Linked DNA regions of Homo sapiens: region 2 is linked to region 1. A link means that fine-mapping ties the variant in region 1 to the expression of a gene that starts in the linked region. Tissue or cell type: pancreas. Region 1 holds a variant in brackets; the other region holds the start of a gene. All regions are shown on one strand. Distances are from middle to middle.

Region 1 (2,760 bases):
CCCTGGTGTTGTTAATGGTAACAAGAGTTGTATTGGAAATGACACTTATTTTTGGAAGACACAGGGACAACTGAGTCACCCATAGTATTTTAGGGGAAAGAATGAAACAAGAAACCCCAAATGAACAGGTGAAGATTTACTAGGCAGATTTCTGTCTTGTACTGAACGTTTTTTGGGTCAAGATTATATGCATGTGCATGAGCTCAGATGGAACTGTCCTGACCTGTGGAGGGGCTGAATTTAGCAGTGAGCTCAGGCTCAGGTCACTTAGAGTCATCCAGCAGAAAATGGCTGGTGTATCTTGGGGCTTTGTATGCTTAAGAGCTGTCCGGCAAGCACGCAGCATTCCTAGAGCACGCTGGGCTCGCCTGTCTCCCATTGATTCAACTCACAGACAGGCTTGTGCTCAGTCAAAACATGTCAGTCATTGAAAGTATATTCTCACTGGTTAGTGTCCTTTTAGAAACCAAACTCAGCTTTCTTCAGGGAAACAATTTGTGCTGATGGGTACACCTCTTTCTCTTCATCCTGTGCACAGTAAGATGCTGCTATGAGGGGGTGTCTGTTCATGTCAGCCCTGCTTGTGAGAATGGTGGAGAGGGAAGGAGGTGGATGGGTGCAGCTGCTCAACCCTGAGTGCACAGCTTCATCCACAATGTGTTTAGCACCAAGCTTACATGGTTTGGAAGAAAGATGACAGGCTTGGGAGATAGACACGTGAGATTCTCAATCCGATTTCAATCAAATATTATGTATAATACCTTACATGTCTGGATAAGTTATTTAACTTCCCAGAGCCTCAGCTCCCTCATCTCTAAAATGGGCACAAAGCAGACTTCCTGTCAGATTTCTTGTGAGCATAAAGATAAGGAACGCATGTGAGGAACAGCCTGGTGTACAGCAGGTGTTCGCTATTTCTTTCCCTCGGGTCAGTTTCCAGTTTCCAGGTGTGTTGCTACCAATCGGCACAGGCAAGCGTTCACAAACGTTTCCTCTAAAGAAACAGAGAGTAAATGCTCTAGGTTTTGTGAGCTAGGAGGCAAAATTAAGGATATTATGTACGTTCTTTCTTACATAATAAAGAGAAAACACATTTCCACCAATTGTTACTGATTTAGGAATATAATAATACAAATAGAGCACAGTTTTTTTTCTAACATAGATCTACTAATGAAAAGAAAAGAACCCTTTTCTGGGGAGATAGCGTTTTACTTAACTGAGGTTCAAAGTTAGAGTTCCCTCTTATCAAGGGGATTGCCAGTGTTCATCTGTACAAACCATTCTTAATTTGCAGGCCATGCAGGAGCAGGCCGTGAGCTGAATTTTGTCCACAGGCCACAGTTTGGAAATCTCTGCTATGGACAGCTTATTAATAGCACCAATCTCTGCTTGTATTCTAACTGTAATCATTAATGGTGAGTAAATAATCTGAAATC[A/G]TAAGTGATGAATGAACTGTTAGAGAGCTACCATCTGCAGAGGGGGATGAAATAATTAATTAAATAAACAGGCACTGGAAGCTGACAGGATACTTAGTCTTATTTGATCAAATAATTGTGTGTGGCTTTTTTTTTTTTTTTTTTTTTTTTGAGACAGGGTCTCTCTCTGTTGCCCAGGCTGGAGTGCAATGACGTGATCTCAGCTCACTGCAACCTCTGCTTCCTGGGTTCAAGCGATTCTCCTGCCTCGGCCTCCTGAGTATCTGGCATTACAGGCGCGCGCCACCATGCCCAGCTAATTTTCGTATTTTTAGTAGAGACCAGGTTTCACCATATTAGTTAGGCTGGCCTCGAACTCCCCACCTCAGGTGATCTGCCCGCCTCGGCCTCCCAAAGTGCTGGGATTACAGGCATAAGCCACTGCACCCGGCCGTGATCAGATAATTCTTTAAATAATATCTTTCTTTGTGGCTAAAATCTGGAAAACAGCAGGAAGAAATGATCAGGCCACACAAACCAACCACCTACTATGAGAGATCAGGCAGTGGATGATTGTGAAAAGTTACTCAAATAGGTTATTTCTGCATCGAATCAAGTAAGAAAAGGACTTGCTTGTCTTTAGTGATGATGCAGCTAAAGGAGGGATGAAGATCTGGCATGTAAGTATCAGAGGGTCCCTTCCTTCCGCCCTTCCACCCACCTGGATGGACAGGTCAGATGGATCTAGTTATATGACCCTTACACACTCAGATGAAAACAAGACCAAAAGACTATTATGGGGTATATTCTTCACCCAAAGGGATTACATTTTAGCAGAATGCTAATATAGAGTGGGAATTATCCTATGGCATAGAAGGCACCAGAGTGGGTGTTAAGGGGAAGCAACGTGACAAGACATCTTTGATAACCGAGTTGGCAAAAGAGGAATGTCCGTATTTCTGAATATTTAAGAGATAGATATGGAAAAGGGTCAAAACACATAGAGCAAGAAGGGACTAAGGTATATGAGAAAAGATCCAAGCAGGCAAGCTGGCTCTTTCCCATTTGTGTGGCAGAAAGCGGGGACCCCACCGCCACCCATCATTTGAAATTCACTGAAAGCCTGTGGACATTTGCAGAAGCTGCCGAGCCAATGGTGCTGAAGCTGCTTAGGGCAAAGATTTTAAAATTTCAGAGTGTTGAACTGGGAAAGTGCTTACAACTCCTTGTAACTAACCCCTCCTTGGAAAACTAGCTGTTTTGAGGCAGAAATATTTTACAATGTATTGTTTTAACTGAAGGGCAATTTTTAGCCAAAGAACGTTTAGCAAATGAGCTTTGGTGG
Region 2 (2,619 bases), 49 kb before region 1:
TGTAAAACAAGGCTTGAAACGTTCCATTGTATGCGTCTGTAGGATACACATTTTGACATATTTTTAAAAGGATGTTGGTTCCCAAATCTCATAGGCATATATAAATAAAACAGAATTTAAAAGGTATTACCTTGTTCAAAATCTGTATGAGCAGATCAATCAGATTATAACACATACAATTATAAAATATGGCATGAGAAGAATACAAGAAAATAAAGTATAATACTCTGCAACTAAAAGTATAATATTCTGGAAGTTTACGCCTTTAGGTATTAAATGTTTTATATGTGATAACTGAAATAATACATTAATTTTCTATGAAGAAAAACATTGTGTTAGAAAAAAACCAGCTAGACCAAATAATGCTTTAGAATTAATTCTACAAATTTACTGACAGGAGAGAAACCCTGAGGTTTTATTTTTACCTTGTTTTCTCATTAGACAGTAGAGAACACCAAGTAAAGCTTGACTTTGACATTAAAGCATTATTTTCCGTTTTAGGCTGAGTGGTTTACTTTGCATCAGGTAAACTAAACTGTCTGCCACGTTTTCTTTGTAGCTAGAGTTAGAAGTTGGTAATTCCTAAGCCAAGTTCTCAGCTTTGGAAAACGTGCTCAAAATGCCTGGAAACTGAGGAGTGAGCATTAGGAAGACTTCCCCTGTCTGGGCTGATAGGAGCGGCTCCAGTTTGGCCAACGCAGGTCGTGCCCCGCGAACAGCGCGCTGCTGAACTTTTCATCCGGACGAGAAAAACGCTCAGATGCGCGCCAGCTCCAGGGAATGCCGGGGGGTGCCAGTCCCTCGCCTCTCCCACCCGGGACCCATCATTTGTTACGGAAGGGCGATGGGGTGTGTTTTATTTCTGTTATCACATATAAAACATTTAAAACCTAAAGGGGAGGAGGCACTCGAGCCTGGCAGCCTCGCCTTCCCTGAGCCCAGTGGCTCTCCTCGGAAAGTCGCTGCGGACCCAGAGGATGGGACACCTTTAGAGCGGACTTTGTCAAATCTCTGAGCCGCTCCGCAGCCACTTGACGGAGTTGCCGCCGCCCCCGGAGCTGGGCGCCGAAGCCCGGGAGCCAGCAGCGCCCCGTCCGCCCGCCCTCGCGCGCTTTCTGGCCGCCCTCGGCCCCGGGGCATCCACTGCGTCCCCCCGGACGCCGCCGGAGTCCCCACCTCGCAGCAAAAGCAAGAATGCCGACACCTACCCTGGTGATGACCAAAGGCTGGTTGAAGTCTATGCCCCCTGAGAGCCTGAAGCCCCAGGGCGCAGGGCCCGGGAGGATCACCGTCTGGGGCATGCCGCCTTCCTCCCGCCCACCGGGCTCTAAGTGTCCCCGCGCAGGGCAGCCACTCCGCGCCGGGCGGCGTCCTGGCCCCGACCCGGGCGGGGGCGCTTTATCCCCGCTGGGGGTGACGTCACCGCCCCGCCGTCCTCCCCGCCCCCTCCCACCCCGGAGAGCTCCAACTTTGGAAGCGAGAGCCGCGCCAGCCCCGCGGGAGTGCGCAGCCCGGCCGGCTGGGGCAGCCTCCCGGGCCGCGGCGGGCGCGGGGGCTTCGGGTTACAGCGTCCGTCGCTCTCTTGAAGTCACACCTGTCTCCCTGTTTATCTTCTGCTTGGAGCGCAGCAGTGCACTTTGTTGGAAGCGAAAGCAGCCAGACCACAGCCTCCATGCTTTCAATTAAAACGAGCATCATCGATACAATAAGTTATTTAGCAGTTTCGAGTGCGTTAATATTTACTTACGACCTCTGCGGCTTTGGCCAAATTACTTAATGTCCTTTTAAATTTTTATTTTATTTATTTATTTTTCTTAGAGACCGGGTCTCCACTTTGTTGCCCAGGCTAGTCTTGAACTCCTGGGCTCAAACAATCTTCCCACCTCAGCCTCCCAAAGTGCAGGAGAGTCTGGCCGGGGTCCTGTGGTAGTCTCAGTGTGGACTCAAGTATTTCTGGTGTTACGCGTTGGGATGTTGTGATTCCCAAAGGGAGAGGGGAGAATGAGGGAAGAGAAATAAGAAATGCTTTAAACACTCAAGAATAAGGGTCTTGGACTTAATGCCCCATATGATAGGGTCGTATTGGTCCAGGAGGACAGAGCTGCAGCAGACTTTTAAGAGGGCAGTCTGTTTGGAAGCAGTTTTAAGACTGATGGAGGAAAGAGAAAGGAGATGCAGAAAGCAGTAAGCAGTAAGCAGTAAGCAAAGCGAACCAGCCTGGGCAAATGTAAATCACAAAGGTAGGATGGGCATTACTTTGTCCGCTGTGGTGGATTACATAAAAGTCCCAGGGGATAAGCACTTTCTAGCTCCACACATTTCCCAGTGCCCCATCTATGCTGGACCATCGAGGAGCTGAACATTGTGTGTCCTGCTGACTGCCTGTTTGGGCTGTGGCTGTATCACTGCAGAGCACATTTCTTCAGTCAGCTGCTGGCTCTGTCTGCGTGGTGCAGACATACACGTGCACACACACAGAGGTCCATTCAGAAAAAAAAAATCAGACAAGTCATTTGGTGTTGTGTAATTATAGTAATTGTTTTTACCTTACTTCACGAGCTGGCTTATATAAACAGCTGATTTTTTCTTTGCCTTTTTGCTGGTCATTTTGGCATCATT

Direction of the effects. Positions count from the first base shown, and alleles are read on the strand shown. Sizes are in standard deviations (SD) of each study's normalised expression.
As copies of G replace A in region 1, the expression in pancreas of the gene that starts at base 1,374 in region 2 goes down (small effect, 0.39 SD a copy in GTEx).

The links. PIP is the estimated chance that this variant, and not a neighbour inherited with it, causes the effect.
Region 2: PDLIM3 starts here. The variant in region 1 is fine-mapped to the expression of PDLIM3 in pancreas (GTEx, PIP above 0.99).

Annotation. Positions count from the first base shown.
Region 1 is chr4:185,582,603-185,585,362 of GRCh38, forward strand. No RefSeq gene overlaps it. Among named protein-coding and RNA genes, the nearest start is that of SORBS2-AS1, 3.9 kb to the right of the region's middle. The variant A/G (reference allele first, on the strand shown) is at 1,437.
Region 2 is chr4:185,534,134-185,536,752 of GRCh38, forward strand. It overlaps PDLIM3 (PDZ and LIM domain 3), which reads right to left and starts at 1,374. Exons shown (of 8, transcript NM_014476.6): 1 at 1,209-1,374. The coding sequence starts at 1,301.